2 linked regions of the Homo sapiens genome follow. The protein of the gene in region 2 purifies or fractionates together with the protein of the main gene of each other region. This does not show direct contact. Each region holds a gene or a part of one and is shown on either strand. Other genes may lie near its edges.

What was found.
Region 1: the proteins of SDF2 (region 2) and ALS2 purify together in Homo sapiens (affinity purification with mass spectrometry; 2 studies listed by BioGRID and IntAct, with this or other methods). This does not show direct contact.

What each region holds. Positions count from the first base shown.
Region 1 is NC_000002.12:201,755,443-201,764,748, forward strand, and holds part of ALS2 (alsin), read right to left. Parts: intron 8,169-9,306; exon of another isoform or gene 7,272-8,168; intron 6,377-7,271; coding exon 5,439-6,376; coding exon of another isoform or gene 5,361-5,438; exon of another isoform or gene 4,010-5,360; intron 2,318-4,009; coding exon 1,960-2,317; intron 1-1,959. UniProt on the Homo sapiens protein: May act as a GTPase regulator. Controls survival and growth of spinal motoneurons.
Region 2 is NC_000017.11:28,650,298-28,659,603, forward strand, and holds part of SDF2 (stromal cell-derived factor 2 precursor), read right to left. Parts: intron 5,187-9,306; coding exon 4,990-5,186; intron 1,246-4,989; coding exon of another isoform or gene 1,189-1,245; intron 1-1,188.

The sequences.
Region 1 (9,306 bases), on a different chromosome or scaffold from region 2:
AGTAGAGACAGGGTTTTGCCATACTGGCCAGGCTGTTCTCAAACTCCTGATCTCAAGTAATCCTCCTGCCTTGGCCTCCCAAAGTGCTGGGATTACAGGTGTGAGCCACTGTGCCCGGCTCCCATCTCTTAAAACACAAAAAGCCTTTCTAAGTCAAGGTCTAAGTTGAAATATATTATGAATAATTGTAATAAAGAATTCATTTTAGCTATAAAATGTAAACATTTCTGAGACGGGAAAAAGATTATGAAAGGGATATACTAAAAAGCTTTTGTACTTGCCTATTTCAAATTATTTTACAGAGATGTTAAAAAATGTTTTAAAAGAACATTGCCATCTTTTATAGTGTTCAAAATTACATCAAACACACACAACACTATGTGAATAGTGTTTGATGCCAGGATAAGATTTGAAGAAAATCATCAAATGTCACTCAGTAGAGACTTAGTCATTAGGTCATTAACTTGAGGGCCACAAGAAAGTGATCATCACTGCCTAATATCAACATCTTTTCTGGTGAATGTATCGTTTCTATGCATACGGAGACTCAAATAAACCTACTTGAAGATTCCTCAAGGATGTACTCCAGATAATTCTTAGAGAGGGGGAAAAGAGTACATGTAAAATTTTTCGAAAGATACTTTAGGTTACTAAGTAAAATTTAACCATAGGATATAAGTCTATTAGTGGGATTCATGATGTAATGATATGAAAAAATATTCCACATTTGTAGTTCAAAGAGATTGCAAATATATTTATATACTTAAAATGCTAAAGGACACTTAAGAATAAGAAAAGTTTGGTGCAAGATTCTCCTTCAGATTTAATAGAGATCATAGGCCTTCTTATACATCATATATATTATATATATATACATATATATTCACATTAATCATGACTTAAGTTTTATTTGTGTAGAGGAAAATCTGGTGGTAATGAGAATTAAGAGTGGCACAAGAGTGTTCAGTAAGTAGAACAAGGGGAGAAACAGGTGCAGAGTAAAAAAGGTAAGTTTTAGTACAGTCTAGAATTCCTAACTTTTGAGCTTTGCACAAAATCATGTAAACCAGGAGTTGGTCAATTATAGCCCATGGCCAAACAGGGCCTACCATATGTTTTTGTAAATAAAGTTTTGTTGGGATATAGCTTCACTCATTCATTACATATTGTCTCTGGCTGCTTTTACATAACCACAGCGTAGCTGAGTAGTTGTCACAGAGACAGGATGTCCTACAAACCTTAAAATATTTCTCTTTGGCTCTTTACAGAAAAAGTCTGCCAAATCCTGGTCTCATCAAATGCTTCTCAGACTTTAGTGTGCATACTAATCACCTGGGGGACCTTGCTCTAATGCATGTTTTGATTCAGTAAGTCGAGAGTGGAACCTGAGAGTCTGCGTTTGTAACAAGTTCCCAGATGCTGCTGATGCTGCTGGTCTGCAGGCCACTCTTGAGAAGCATTAAGTCCAGATGGCTGAGACTGCTGAACTGATTGAGAAAAGGAGAAGAACCAACTGCATAATATTCTAAAAAGTTTATTGCCTATGGTCTCAGAAAATGAAATTTTCTCTTCTTGAAGCTTAAGAATTCTCTCCTCTTTCAAGTCAAGTACAGTAATTCACTTATCCAATGGTCGCATCTCCAACCTCATCGATCTGGAGTATCGGTCCCAATTAGGAAATAAGAAGGGTACTGTAACACTCCAGAACAATAAAATAAGATTCACAATAAGGTTCATAAGCAGGAGCAAACATCAAGAAAAAGTGACGTTCTAACTTTATAGTGATATCTAAAGCAGATAAACATGTAACTTTCTTTTAAAACCACCATTAAATAAATATTCACATTTGAATATGTCAGCTTCATAATTAGGACAGCTTTTTTAATAATACAGCATGCGATGTCAGGAGCATCCTGGATTCCCCAAAAGTCAATTCACAAAACCTAGTTATTTCCTTACCTTGTGACAACAATCCAGGGAGGGAGAGTCTTCGACTGCCTCCCTCTGTTTCTTCTTCTCTGATATCCACAAGACTTGAACTTTTCTTTCCTTGCATTGATTCCTGTTTAACCTGTTCTTCCCTGCTATCTTTCAAACCTTCGGGGCCAATGGCACTACTGCCTGCCTGAGCTCCAGTTTCACAAGGGGTTGTACTATAAAAGTTCATAACTTTCTTCAGTGACAAGGCACCAGCTTCATAAGTAGCAGCCACTCTCACACCAACAGCAGATGCACAAGAGACCACCAGGCTGTTTAGGGCTGAGGTGCTTGTGGTAGGCGGGCTGTGGAGATTAGGAATTGCTTCTTCTAAAAGAGGCTAAAATATACACACATAAAAAATTATATAAAAATATAATCCCTTATGCAACAAGCAATCAATAAAAAGAAAGGCTAATATCCATCGCTATTTGCATGTAAGAATCTAAAACGACAGAAGTTCTCTTCATCTTCAACTAAAGGTATTCTCTTCTTGATCATGGAGTTAACACATTAAATGGAAATGAGTACTCAAAATACAGTTCCTTCTCCAAAGTACTTCCTTTTGTCTAGATGTTGTGTTTTTCTATGGTATTTCAAAATAAGCCTCGGCTGCTTTTATAAAATTAAACACAGTAAAAAGGGAGGGAGAAGAAAAGGCATGGAAAACACTGCCTTTAATGCCAAGTGCACTGTGACAGCCCTGGACAGAAGATTGAAAAAATGCAAATTTCATTATTGATCCCTTTCAGGAAAATTTATACAGACTACTACCTAGAAGTGGCAGGAAAAAAATTAGATTTTATGAAGAAAAAAAAAGCTTTCCCTGAAATGCTTTATAAATTGAAATTTAGATATAGCATATGGAGATGGAAAAATAAGTTATACCTGTAACCTATCATCTCCCAAATTATGCTCAACTCGAGTGCCTTTACTGGCTCATCAATGAGTTATTTTCTATGACCCAGGGGCTAGAAAAGCTGTAGGATTACCTTTGCTCTTGCTACCACAGATGGCAAATGTGGTAGGTTAATAATTAAACATTTGGAACCAGTGTTCTTAGTGTGATTCTAGAAGTGTACTAGAAAGTCAAACTAAAGTTTTCTGATATCTTAATGAAAAAATCAGTTGAAATTTACTCTAAGCTGTCAAACATCATTGTTCCCTAAAAAGGAAGGTCATTAAATGTACCTACCAAACACATAAAAAAGCTTTCAGCTCATCAGCATAGATCATATTGAAAAATTTGCTTCTTATTGTACCCAAAGATCTCAAAGGGAATATACACATTCCTTCATTTGTCCTAAACTAAAATACAAATATAATGTGTGTGTGTGCGCATGTGTGTGTGTGTGTGTGTGTGTGTTTGTTTGTATATTTTAACATTGGCATCTGACTTCCTAAAGGAAATAATTCCTGGTACCTAGCGAAGTGCCTGACATGTAAGTACTCAAAACATTTTGTTGAATTAAACGCTAAATTCAAAAGAGCTATTTCCATGCAAATTAGTCTGTAAATAGTCAATAAACAAATATACTTAATAAAACGAAAAAGAAATACAAAGCCTATTACTTCTTTGGTGATACAGCTCCCACGATAGCTTGTTCAGAAGAACTAGTGTCACTATGTCCACTTTTTGTTTACAAAGGCTCCTTACATAAGCAGTGATGGTATTTAGAGGTAACTATTTTAGGGGGTTCTTAACCACTAGGTACAGCAAAGTCACAAAACTCTACCTTATATAAACCTTGAACTACTGTTCTAACTGGCTCCTTCTACTTAATTATATTTAAAAATATAGTAATAAGCCCTCCCCTACAAAAAACATAATTAGCAATTTTGATGAAATATATAATTTTAGGAGTTCCAGTCAACCAGTAATACTTTGGTTTATTTCCCAAGTGAGAGAGTCTCAGTTATATCTCGCCAGAAGAGAAAAAACTTGCCCTAAAACAAATAAATTCCTTGTGAATTAGCTGTATGATTGAGATGTTATTTACAAAGAATAAATTAAATGTAATAGAAACACACATTTAATTTAAATAAATTAAATTTAATTCAATAGAAACACACACATTGTTACTAGCATAAGTAACAAAAACTTCCAATGTTTAACAAAGTAAGTAAAATGTGATAAGCATGTACAGTCTAAGAATTTTCTACATGCATTCTTGTTAAACTACTACTTTTGCTTTGTTCAGACTTTATAATACCTTTCTCCAAACAGCTTATCCTTGATTTTTTTAAAAATTCAAATACCCACAAGTTTCAGTGAATAGATTGTGAAATAAAGACTATTTCTAAAAATACCTTCATGTTCACATTCTGACAGAGTAAACAATAAGAATTGAGAATCAAGAGGCTATGTGGTTTCAAAAACCTAAAAAGAAACACTGCAGGACAGATCTTTTATGAGTATGATCTTTTGTTTTGTTTTCTTACAGTTTTGGTAAAGCAAAATCAAAAGGCCACACTAAGAGTAAAACACAGAAATAATCCTTTTAAAACAATTTAGTTTAAGCGGGAACTCAAACTTTACCATGTGCTACTGATAAACAACTTTTGTTCATTCTACCACAAATCTTCAAAATGAAAATAGTTTTAATAAGATATATAAAATAGGCTGGGCATGATGGCTCATGCCTGTAATCTCAACACTTTGGGAGGCTGAGGTGGGAGGATTGCTTGAGCTCAGGAGTTTGAGATGAGCCTGGGCAACAGGCTCTACTCTACTTAAAAATAAAATCAGCAGGTGTGGTGGCATGTGTATAGTCCCAGCTACTTGGAAGGCTGAAATGGGAGGATCGCTTGAACCTGGGAGATCGAGGCTGCAGTGAGCCACAATCGCATTACTGCACTCCAGCCTGGGTGACAGAGCAAGACCCCATCTCAAAAACAAACAAACAAAAAGATAAAATATTAGCCACCTCTTCAAATTAAGCCCAGTAAGGACCACAGCTATAATTGAAAAAAACTGAAACATGTAATTGCCTGTAAGTTTTAAATCTGCCTACAATTGAAGGATCTGCCACAAAACAATCTTCCCTGTTAAAGAAGGAAAAGACTTTTCTCTACAGAATTCTGAAGAGTGTTACAAACACAAGTAAGAAGAATCTTTGTGAATCTCTAGTTATATTAAACTATTCAGGGCCCACCAAAATTCAGTACTTTAGCCATAGAAAAAAAGTACTAGCAAGAAAAAAAAATGAAATGCTCCTACTTATAAAACAAGCCCAACATGACACCTTTCAATATCATAAAGGGCCAGAACAAACATAAAGAGTGATTTTGAATTAATCCAGGTTCTTTCCTTTATCTAGGCTTGCCTGATAAAACAAAATTATAATCAAACTCAAAAAATAAAAAATGCTACCAAGCCTTACTCATTTTAAAGTTTCTAAAGAAAAGCCCATACAGTTCAACTCTAGACACACTTTTATTTTATAAAATTGAGCAGGTACCTGAGATGGCACTGGCTTTTCACCATGCTCTGAGTCCTCTCTTACTGAATGATCTGACAGTTTCCGTAGGTATTCATTGACTGCTTGGGTGTCAGGGTATGATGGTATGTTTCTGGCAGAGGAAATTTCAGTTGTTCCCATGACATTTTGTTGAGAGGACATGGCATCGCTGCTTGTGATCTGAGCACTTACTGCATTCAGTTCAGTAGCAACAGACTGATCATTTGCTACAAGAGTGTTCTCAAATACTTCTTCCTGCCTGTCAAGGGTTTCAGTGGAGGGGCTGAGAGCAGTGCTGGCATGGTTTTCTGCCTGAGATTCTGTCAGTGTCACACCTAATGGGCAACAATGACTGTCTGATATAATCACATGGTCTTCTTTGTCAGTCATAGTAATCAAGAGCTGGCTGCACTGGTTGCATCGTTCTGGGACTGGCTTCAGATCCTGGGAAGGGAGGCATTGTACAAGGGCTAAGCTGTGGAAAGCACCACAGGCAACTTGAAGCACCACTCGCCCAGCAAGATGTTCTACCTTTTGCGGCTTTGTCACTGGGAAGGCAGTGGTAATGAGACCCAACTGACAACCGGTACCCCATGCCCAAATCTCTCTGCTTATTGACAATGCCAGAGTGTGCTCCTCGCCACACGCCAACTGTAAAATCCTGACTGCTAACAAAGGGCTGGCCTCAGAATCAGCAATGCTGACAGGATTTGGTTCCGGCACATACTGCTGGTTGGCTACTGCACACTGGCCAGCAGAATTCTCTCCCCACATGTACGCGACACCATTGTCTGTCACTGCTCCACTATGGAAGCTTCCTGTTGCCACAGTAATAACATATTGCCCAACCAGGGCATTTTCTAGAATGGGGCTACTTGGACAAATCTCCACTGGTCCACTTCTCCAGGGAAGAGTCCCAAAGCTGTAGACCTCACCATCTGAAGGTTAAAAAAAAGAAAAAAGAAAAAAAAAAGGGTTAGTGAATTAACTAAAAATTTTAACAGCAAACTTTTAGTCCCCTATAGATTTAACCAAATTGGATTTTCTTTTTAAATTTTCAAAAGCAGTTGTAGAAATCTGGTTCAAGCACACAGTATTTCACATTAATTCATCTTTTTAAAAATGACTCTTTTTAATATTCTGCACTATAGTGAGAATTTCTACAAAGTGCAGGAGGCTAATCCTTTCCTTCAGCCTCATCCTACAAACTCCTCACATCAATCCACTCCTAACGGCCATCATCCAGGCTATTATAGAAACAGATTCCAAGTGTTCAAAGGCAAAATAAATAACCATGTTAAGATAAAATAAGCAAAAAATAAGACAAAACAGACACATTCACTAATATCTACAATTCACTACTACTAAACAAGTTGGAACAGCAAAAAATTATGCAATGGCTTAAAAATATTAGCGATTCATTTTGGCCAAAACTAAGAAATTAACTTTATGCCTCTAGGCTGTACAGGAAGCACCAGTTCTTAACAAGACATGGCTGTCTTCACTTTGTATGTCACATTATATATAGTTTTGAGATGTTACATAAATATACAGGTTGAGTATCACTTATCCAAAATGCTTGGGACCAGAGGTGTTTTGGATTTCAGGTCCAGGTTTTGGAATATTTGCCTTATGCTTACTGACTGAGCATCCCAAATCTGAATGTTCCAATGAGCATTTCCTTTGAGCACCATCACATCAGCACTCAGAAAGTTCTGGATTTTGGATCATTTTAGATTTCAGATTTTTTAATGTGGGATGCTCACCCTGGACTTTATGTACTAGATACTAGCTAGTCTTTCTGAGGTGAGATTTGTTTAAAAAGCAAATCAGCTTCTTCTCTGAAAAAACATCAAATGGCAGATGAAGCTAGGGCAGCAGGAGGGCCCAGAGGCCCCAGAGACCCTGGGATGGGGAACCACAGTGACTTCCATGGAGGCTTGGGCAGTGGCATCTGGGGCCAGGGTCGGGGCCACAGAGCTCAAGGAGGCAAGGCTGAGGATAAGGAGTGGACACCCATGACCAAGCTGAGCTGCCTGGTCAAAGACACGAAGATGAAGTCCTGCTGAAAACCTATCACTTCTCCCTGCCCATCAAGGAGTCTGAGATCATTGACTTTTTCCTGGGGACCTCTCTCAAGGATGAGGTTTTGAAGATTGTGCCAGTGCAGAAGCAGACGCGCACTGGCCAGCACACCAGATTCCAGGTGTTTGTTGCCACTGGGGACTACAATGGCCACTTGCTCCAAGGAGGTGGCCACTGCCATCCAAGGGACTATCATCCTGGCCAAGCTCTCCAATGTCCCCGTGCACAGAGGCTACTGGGGGAACAAGATCAGCAAGCACCACGCAGTCCCTTGCAAGGTGACAGACTGCTGTGGCTTTGTGCTGGTGCGCCTCATCCCTGCACCCAGAGGCACTGGCATTCTCTTAGCCCTAGTGCCCAAGAAGCTGCTGATGATGGCCAGTATCGATGACTGCTACTCCTCAGCCAGGGGCTGCACTGCCACCCTGGCCAACTTCACCAAGGCCACCTATGATGCCATCTCCAAGACCTACAGCTAACTGGCCCCCAACCTCTGGAAGGAGACTGTATTCACCAAGTCTCCGTATCAGGAATTCACTGGCCACCTCGTCAAGACCCACACCAGAGTCTCCAGACAGAGGACCCAGGCTCTAGCTGTGGCTACAACATAGGGTTTTTATACAAGAAAAATAAAGTGAAGTAAGCCTAAAAAATGTTAAAAATAAAAAGCAAATCATCACAACAGAACAAAGCAAAAAAGCAAATGAACCTGTCAGAATAACTGGCTAGCTTTAGAATTAATGAAAGGCACCAGTGAGTTGGGTATATAAATAACTCATGTATGTCCAGCTATGCTACCAAGTCTTAATTTTACTGTAGTATTGTGGGAGCTTGGGAGCAGGTACACATAAGCTATGCTGGCTAAAAATTCAATGAAACAAAGACTTGGCTACGGGTTTTAAAAAATACTGAGCCAAGCCCACTATCCTTTCTTTTCCATATGACCAGAGATTTATGATTTTTTTTAATTAATGAAGAAATAAGCACTGTTTTTTTTCTCATAAGGCAGCAATTGAGTTGATGATGAAAACATGCAAACTTTATCTTTGACCTATTATACATGGCAGATACATGTATACACTCAAGTTAACTCATCACATCATCTATATAAGTAAGGACTCAATAGTGGCTACAGGGAAGATATGTGCATTTATTAGGAAATGTATAGTCTGGTTCAAGAATACTGACATGAGAAAATAAGCTCACTGGTTAAGCTCTTTTAAACTTTGTTTCCTAATACAACAGTATACTTGAAAAAGCTCACCAAGTCTTTCAATTAACATTATTCCACTAGAAAGAGCAATACTGCAAAGAAATGGATATTTAGATCCCTCTCCTTAAAAAACAAAAACAAAAACTGGAGCATATAAAAAATAGTGAAACAGGCTGGGTGCAGTGGCTCACGCCTGTAATCCCAGCACTTTGGGAGGCAGAGGCAGGCGAATCACTAGGTCAGGAGTTTGAGACCAGCCTGGCCAATATGGTGAAACCCTGTCTCTACTAAAAATACAAAAAAAAAAGAGCCAGGAGTGCTGGCACTGGCCTGTAGTCCCAGCTACTCGGGAGGCTGAGGCAGAAGAATTGCTTAAACCCAGGAGGTGGAGGTTGCAGTGAGCTGAGATCGTGCCACCACACTCCAGCCAGGGCAACAGAGCGAGACTCCGTCTCAAAATAAATAAATAAATAAATAAATAAATAAATAAATAAATAAATAAATAAAAGTGAATCAATGAGGTATCTTCATTGAATTATGAGCTAATGGTCATATTTAATAGAGATGAAG
Region 2 (9,306 bases):
ATAAAGGACATAGGAGGAAAAAAATTCATTGCTATAAGATTATGGTCCATGGTTCTTATCTGAGTCATGGCATCAAAAAGAAAGGAAAAAAAAAAGATTATGGTCCAAACACTTATTTTGCAATTAATACTATAATTGCCTTATATTTTCTATTACAGTGTTAAAACAGAATTTCTTTTTTTTTTCTTTTTAAGAGTTGGGATTGTGGCCAGGTACGGTAGCTCATGCCTGTAATCCCAGTAATTTGGGAGGGCGAGGCGGGCAGATCGCCTGAGGTCAGGAGTTCAAGACCAGCCTGGCCAACATGGTAAAACCCCATCTCTACTAAAAATACAAAAATTAGCCAGGTGTGGTGGCAGGCGCCTGTAATCCCAGCTATTCGGGAGGCTGAAGCAGGAGAATCGCTTGAACCTGGGAGGCGGAGGTTGCCGTGAGCCGAAGGTTGCAGTGAGCCGAGATTGCACCACTGGACTCCAGCCTGGATGACAAGAGTGAGACTTTGTCTCAAAAAAAAAAAAAAAAAAAAAAAAAAAACAGTTAGGGTATCTTGCTCTGTTGCCCAGGCTGGAGTGCAGTGCCTCAAGTGGTCTTATGGCCTCACCTCCTGAGTAGCTAAGACAACAGGCATATACCACCACACCCAGGTAATTAAAAGTTTTTTGGTAGGCAACTGTGTTGCCTTGGCTGGCCTCTAACTCCTGGACTTAAACGATTCTCCCCACTTGGTCTTTTAGGGTGCTGGGATTACAGGTGTGAGCCACCGTGCTGGCTTTAAAATACTTTACTTTTTTGAGACAGCATCTCGCTCTGTCGCCCAGGCTGGAGTGCAATGGCACAATCTCGGCTCTCTGCAACCTCCACCTCTTGGGTTCTCATGCCTCAGCCTCCAGAATAGCTGGGATTACAGGCATGTGCTACCACACCCAGCTAATTTTGGTATTTTTTAATAGAGATGGGGGTTTCACCATGTTGACCAGGCTGGTCTCAAACTCCCAGCCTCAAGTGATCCACCTACCTCAGCGTAGTAAAGTGCTGGGAGTACAGGCATGAGCCACCACATTCTGCCCTTAAAATACTTTATATCTCTTGTTATTTGACTTTAAATATTACTGCTTCATTCTCTTAACTAGATTTTAAATGACCTGATGACAAGTTCAAAAGGGAATGGACTCTGGGAGTCAGGCTGACCTTGAATCTCAACTTGATCCCTTCTTCTGTAAATCCTTTGAGCCTTTGTTTTCTCCTCTATAAAATGATCACAATATCACCTTACAGAGCAACTGTGAGAATTAAATGAGATAGCAAATATTAACTGAGCAAAACATAGCAAGTTTTCTACATTCTTTTCTTTCTTTCTAATAAGGCAGTGAGAGAGAAAGCAAGTTCTCTATATTCTACTCCTCATCTAAATCCCATCTTCCTTAAGGCCAAATATTCAGTTTCTATACGATGGCAATTAAAAAATTACTGATTATTTCAGAAGTGTGTGTGTGTGTGTGTGTGTACACTCTACTTGATAAAATTGTTCCCAGGAGGGTACCAGTATGTAATTCTGATACTGCTATATTTGTATACTGGAACTGAACTGAAGTTCAATACATGGATGGCAGATGGTAGGAACAAGGTATCTTACTGTTGGAGTGGGAATTTACAAATTAGCACAGGGAGGAGGCTAGGACGATCTATGTGGTAATGGATTACAGCTAAAGACATCAATAAGAACACTAGCCAGGCACAGTGGGGCATGCCTGTATCCCCAGCTACTTGGAAGGCTGACGCAAGAGGACTGCTTGAGCCAAGGAGTTCGAGGCTCTAGTGCACTATCATCACACCTGTGAGTAGCCACTGCACTCCAGCCTGAATAACACAGCAAGAACCCATCTTAAAAAAAAAAGAAAAAGAAAAAGAAAGCTCATTTAACTTAATATATGTAGATACAGATGGCTATGCAAATAAAAATTTATAGATATGTAATATATACACGAGTAAGCACACACAGGTAACAATTCTTTATTTTTTTAATTTTTTTTTGAGACAGAGTCTCGCCCTGTCACCCAGGCTGGAATGCAATGGTGCAATCTCGGCTCACTGCAACCTCCGCCTCCCAGGTTCAAACGATTCTCCTACCTCGGCCTCCCAAGTAGCTGGGATCACAGGCTCCCGCCACCATGCCCAGCTAATTTTTGTACTTTAGTAGATACGGGGTTTCACCATGTTAGCCAGGCTGGTCTCGAACTCCTGACCTTGTGATCCACCCACCTCTGCCTCACAAAGTGCCGGGATTATAGGTGTGAGCCACTGCGCCTGGCTTACAGTTATTTATTCTGTCAAGTGAGAGGGCCTAAAAGAAACACTCCAGTAGCAACAAGCTTACATAAGGCCTAGAACTTGGTTTTAATATCATTCTCCAATAAAAGGAAGCAGAGCTCCTTGGAGAAACAGCTGATTCTAGTACTGGAGCAAGAAATAAACAAGATGAGCCTGGAGCATCTTTTGGTGCCAGAAAGGAAAGAAGTGCTTTAAAGTGCAGGCACATATACACAAAAACACAATGGGATACTGCCAATGGACACAAAGCCAGCTGAAAGAATTCCCAATGGCCAAAGTTGGAACAATTTGAGCAACAAAATATAGTAGCATTAGATTATAACGAAGTATAAACTATCCATAAGTTTATACTAATGTAAATAACTGAATAAATAAATAAATTGGGGAAAAGAGACAAATCCCCAATATGGAAAAATCCCAAATAAAATATGTAGATATTCCACCCTAATGTAGACAGAGTATAACTCTCCAGTCTGTAAGAGTGAAATGCACATAGTGACTTTCTTCCAAAAAGTGCATGGAAAGGGGGAAAATGAAAAGAATAACTTTACAGGAGAAACCTAACGAACAAACACTACTTCAGCCAGGTAATCAAGGTCCACATCAACAGTCATAAATCATAAAGATAGTATGTACCCCTGATATGATGGGATACAAATGGCACTTTACCTCTGTGATCTTCCTCCCAAACCCTTTATAAGTCCGGTCTAATCACAAGAAAAACAAATTCCAACAGAGGGGCAATCTACAATACACCTGACCAGCACTCCTCAAAGCTGTCAAGGTCATCAAAAACTAGGGAAGCCTGAAAAACTGTCACAGCCAAGAACAGCCTAATGAGACATGGCAAGTATATGTAATGTGGTATTTTGGAATGGAAAAAGAACATTAGGTAAAAACTAAGGGACCGGGCACGGAGGCCTCACGCCTGTAATCCCAGCAGTTTGGGAGGCCAAGGTGGGTGGATCACAAGGTCAGGAGCTCGAGACCAACCTGGACAACATGGTGAAACCCCGTCTCTACTGAAAATACAAAAATCAGCCGGGCGTGGTGGCAGGCACCTGTAATCCCAGCTACTCAGGAGGCTGTGGCAAGAGAATAGCTTGAACCTGGGAGGCGGAGGTTGCAGTGAGCTGAGATCGCGCCATAGCACTCCAGCCTGGGACAGAGCGAGACTCTGTCTCAAAAAACAAAACAAAACAAAACAAAACAAGGGAATCAGAAAAAAACTATGGTCTTTAGTTAATAAAACTGTATCAATATTGCTTCATTAAATATAGCAAATTTACCCTTCGAAGGTAAGATATTAATAGGGAAAACTGCATACAGGGGCTGGGGACAGGGAAGGAGTCATTAAGGTGTCCACATCCCCTGACAACTCAAGGCTTAAAACAGTGGCACAAGGCTGGGTGTACTGGCTTATGCTTGTAATCCCAGCACTTTGGGAGGCTGAGGCAGGCAGATAGCTTGAGCTCAGGAGTTTGAGACCAGCCTAGGCAACATGGCAAAACCCCGTATCTACCAAAAAAAATACAAAAATTAGCCAGGCATGGTGGCGTGAGCCTGTAGTGAGGGCTGAGGTGGGAGAATTGCTTGAGCCCAGGAGGCTGAGGCTGCAGTGAGCAAGATCACACTACAACCTGGGTGACAGAGCAAGACCCTGTTTAAAAACAAAAAACAGTGACACAAAAGCAAATCTATTTTCCTAATGTAACTAGTTAGCATCATTAAAAAAAAAAAAAACACTGCAAGTTGGAAAACATTGGGTTTCTTTATTGCAGAATATCAGAACTTATGATATGCTGATGTATACCCAGTCTGTCTGTCCTTCCCATTTCTTGATTTGGTTTAGTTGTTGTCTCCACTTTGACCAGAAACAATTTTCTTCACACTTATAAAACAAAGCCGGCTGGGTGCAGTGGCTCATGCCTATAATCCCAACACTTCCAGGAGGCAGAGGCGGGTGGATCACCTGAGGTCAGGAGTTCGAGACCAGCCTGACCAATATGGTGAAAACCCATCTCTACTAAAAATACAAAAATCAGGCCAGGCGCGGTGACTTGCACTTGTAATCCCAGCACTTTGGGAGGCCGAAGTGGGCAGATCACAAGGTCAGGAGTTCGAGACCAGCCTGGCCAACACAGTGAAACCCCATCTCTACTAAAAATACAAAAAAAAAAATTAGCCAGGTGTGGTGGCACACGCCTGTAGTCCCAGCCACTCGGGCAGCTGAGGTGGGAGAACCGCTTGAACGCAGGAGGCAGAGGTTGCAATGAGCTGAGACCATGCCATTGCACTCCAGCCTGGGTGACAGAGTGAGACTCCATCTCAAAAAAATAAAAATAAAAACAAAAATTAGCCAGGCATGGTGGCATGCGCCTGTAATCCCAGCTACTTGGGAGACTGAGGCAGGAGACTTGCTTGAACCCAGAGGCGGAGGTTGCAGTGAGCCAAGATCATGCCACTGCACTGCAGCCTGGGTGACAGAGTGAGACTGCGTCTCAAAAACAACAAAAACCCACACAAAAATAGAGCCATTTCCCCAGGTCTGCACAAAAGAGAACATCTACACCTAGAAAAGAAACATTTAAGAACCAAGAGATCAAACAAGCACCCACTGAGTAATGCAGAGCAGCAACAATCCATCGAAAGCCACCTCACCTGGTTTCCAGAAAGAGGTGAAGTGAAGTGGTGACTATGGAGGTTTCGGCCAGTGTTGACATGTGTCAGCCGGATGGGCTGGCCACACTTGATGGGGGTTCCCCTCTCACACACTGTGGCACTCTTCCCCCGTATCCTCCAGTAACTGTTGCTGTCATCCACAGAGGTTACACCTGTCACTGACTGCTGCCCACTACCTGCAGTTAAGAAAAGAAAGGCAACTCTCTTTCTCTGCCATGGACAACATGCTCAGAGACAGAAGCTTGAGTGCGCTCAAGATTCACCTTCACCTGTAACCCACCACCATGACCAAGGAAGACACGCTGCTGGAGGTGTAATGGATATTAATACTGCTCTACAAGAGACTGAAGACCGCCCTCAGCCATGATGGCCTAGCAGGTGGAACCTGCAAAGCTGCCAAAGCCTTAGACAAGGGCCAAGCCCATCTTTGCGTGCTTGCATCCAAATGTGAAGAGCCTATGTATGTCAAGCTAGGGGTGGCCCTTTGTGCCGAACACCAAATCAACCCAATTAAGGTTGATGACCTTAAGAAACCAGAGACATGGCTAAGCCTTTGTAAAACTGATAGACAAGGAAAACTTTGTAAAGTGGTTGGTTGCAGTTGTGTCACAGTGAAGGGCTACAGCAAAGAATTTCAGGCCAAGGATGTGACTGTGTACTTCAAATGCAAGAAATTAACAAATAAATTTGGTACCCATTCCTCAAAAAAAAAAACAGCAAGTGAGCTCAGCCTCACCCTTCTTGCCTATGGCCAATATTGTGCCGTGTCATTAAACAGGTAAGAAGGGGTGGGGAGAAAAATGCTATGCTTGGCAATATTTTTTCTTCTACAACATTAAAATATTTATAAAAAATACAAATCATACTGGGCGTGGTGGCTCACGCTTGTAATCCCAGCACTCTGGGAGTGAAACTTGACCTCCCAAAGTGCTGGGATTGATGGTGAGCCACTGTGCCCAGCCTTTTTCTTCTTTTAAATAAAAAAAAAATTTTTTAGGCTGGGTGTGGTGGCTCACACCTGTAATCCTAGCACTTTTTGGGAGGCTGAGGCAGTTGGATTGCTTGAGCCCAGGAATTCAAGACCAGCCTGGGCAACATGGCAAAAACCCATCTTTACTAAAAATACAAAAATTAGCTGGGTGTGGTGGTGGCAGCCTGTAATCCCAGCTATCTGGGAGGCTGAGGTGGGAGAATCGCTTGAACCCGGGAGGTGGAGGTTGCAATGAGCCAAGATCGCGCCACTGCCCTCCAGCCTGGATGACAGAGCCAGACTCCGTCTCAAAAAAAATAAATAAATAAACTGTGTCCACGTAATACTAGTTACTATATGATAAAGTATACTTAAGGGTATGTCATATCAGAAAATTCTAAGAATTTGCATCAAAGGATATCCAAGGCACAAATCTATGTGAGTTTTTTGAGGCACAGGCAGTGGTAACCTATACACACTAGCCTGGATAGCCCCTAATGTGTCTAATCACATAATTTTAACATGTTTGTAATATTATTCATGTTCATTAACTATTATGATAAAAATTTTTGTATTTCACAATTAAAATGAGACTATGTTGCCAACTTTAAGCAGCCATTACAGCTCCCAACTCCCATAAGTGGTCAATTATTATAAACGTATTATTTAAGCAAGGCACGGTGGCTCACGCCTGTAATCCCAGCACTTTGGGAGGCTGAGGCAGGCAGAACACAAAGTCATGAGTTCGAGACCAGCCTGGCCAATATGGTGAAACCCCGTCTCTACTAAAAATATAAAAATTAGCTGGGCGTGGTCGCATGTGCCTGTAATCCCAGCTACTTGGGAGGCTGAGGCAGAAGAATTGCTTGCATCCGGGAGGCGGAGGTTGCAGTGAGCCGAGATCACACCACCGCACTCCAGCCTAGGTGGCAGGGCAAGACTCTGTCTCAAAACAAAAACAAAAACAAAACAAAAAATGTATCCTTGGAGGTCTGGCACAGTGGCTCATGCCTGTAATCCAAGCGCTTTGGGAAGGTGAGGGGAGGATCCCTTGAGTCCAGGAGTTCGAGACTAGCCTCAGCAACATAGCAAAATGCAGTCTCTAAACGTACATATATATATATGTATTTTTTTTTTTTGATACAGGATCCCTCTTGTCACTCAGGCTGGAGTGCAGTGGCACGATCACAGCTCGCCACAGCCTTGACCTCCCAGGCTCGGGTGATCCTCCTACCTCAGCCTCCCAAGTAGCTGGGATTTCAGGCGCCTGCCACCACACCTGGCTAATTTTTCTATTTTTTGTAGAGATGGGTTTTTGCCATGTTGCCCAGGCTACTCTCGAATTCCTGGGCTCAAGCAATCCAACTGCCTCAGCCTCCCAAAGTGCTAGGATTACAGATGTGAGCCACCACACCCAGCCTAAAAAAAAATTTTTATATTTAAAAGAAAAAAAAGAAGCTGGGCACAGTGGCTCACCGTCAATCCCAGCACTTTGGGAGGTCAAGGTGGGCAGATCGCTTGAGCCCAGGAATTCAAGACCAAGCCTAAGCAACTGACAAAACTCCATCTCTACAAAAGATGCAAAAAATTAATCAGGTGTGGTGGGGTGCACTTGTAGTCCCAGCTACTCAGGACGCTGAGATGTGAGGATTGCTTGAGCCCAGGAGGTCAAGGCTGCAATGAGTCGTAATTGTGTCACTGCCAGTTACACGGGTAAATGTAGCCAACTATCAGCTCCTTTCATGACTTTATTATATCTTTTTTCAGAAAAGGCAAACCAAGTCTCCCTTCCTACTTCTGGTTACTGCCTTACAGCTCTCTGGGTCCTCACAGCCACGCTTCACTAAACCATGGTCTACATTTTGTCTCCTACATTTTCTGCTTTCTATTCAACCGTTCACTTCTTCCTCCAAATCCTTATACCTTGGGATTATCCAAAGTTCTATGCCTGGCCTTCATCTGTTTCTACCTGTAGTTTTTTTTTTTTTTTTTAGTATTTATTGTTCATTCTTGGGTGTTTCTCGGAGAGGGGGATGTGGCAGGGTCACAGGATAATAGTGGAGAGAAGGTCAGCAGATAAACATGTGAACAAAGGTCTCTGGTTTTCCTAGGCAGAGGTCCCTGCGGCCTTCCGCAGTGTTTGTGTCCCTGGGTACTTGAGATTAGGGAGTGGTGATGACTCTTAACGAGCATGCTGCCTTCAAGTATCTGTTTAACAAAGCACATCTTGCACCACCCTTAATCCATTTAACCCTGAGTTGACACAGCACACGTTTCAGAGAGCACGGGGTTGGGGGTAAGGTTATAGATTAACAGCATCCCAAAGCTGAAGAATTTTTCTTAGTACAGAACAAAATGGAGTCTCCTATGTCTACTTCTTTCTACACAGACACAGTAACAATCTGATCTCTCTTTCTTTTCCCCACATTTCCCCCTTTTCTTTTCGACAAAACCGCCATCGTCATCATGGCCCATTCTCGATGGTCGCTGTCTCTTCGGTGCTGTTGGGTACACCTGCAGAAAGGCTGTCACTTCACACTTGGAAGACTGCACAGCGGCCAGGCAGAGGCGCTCCTCACTTCCCAGACGGGGCGGCCGGGCAGAGGCACTCCTCACTTCCCAGACAGGGTGGCCGGGCAGAGGAGCTCCTCACTTAACAGACTGGGTGGCCGGGCAGAGGCGCTCCTCACATCCCAGACGATGGGAGGCCGGACAGAGGCGCTCCTCCCCTCCCAGACGGGGCGGCCGTGCAGAGGCGCTCCTCACTTCCTAGATGGGACAGCCAGGCAGAGGTGCTCCTCAACTCCCAGACGAAGGGCGGCCGGGCAGAGGCGCTCCTCACATCCCAGACAATGGGCGGCCGGGCAGAGGCGCTCCTCACTTCCCAGACAGGGTGGCGGCCGGGCAGAGGCGCTCCTCACATCCCAGACGGGGTGGCGGCCAGGCAGAGGCGCTCCCCACTTCCCAGACGGGGCGGCTGGGCAGAGGCGCTCCCCACTTCCCAGACGGGGCAGCCGGGCAGAGGCGCTCCCCACTTCCCAGACAGGGCGGCCGGGCAGAGGCGCTCCCCACTTCCCAGACGGGGCAGCCGGGCAGAGGCGCTCCCCACTTCCCAGATGGGGTGGCGGCCGGGCAGAGGCGCTCCTCACATCCCAGACAGGGCGGCCAGGTGCTCCCCACTTCCCAGATGGGGTGGCCGGGCAGAGGTGCTCCTCACCTCCCAGATAATGGGCAGCCCACTTCCCAGATGGGGTGGCAGCCGGGCAAAGGCACTCCTCACATCCCAGATGGCGCGGCCGGGCAGAGGCGCTCCTCACTTCCCAGAC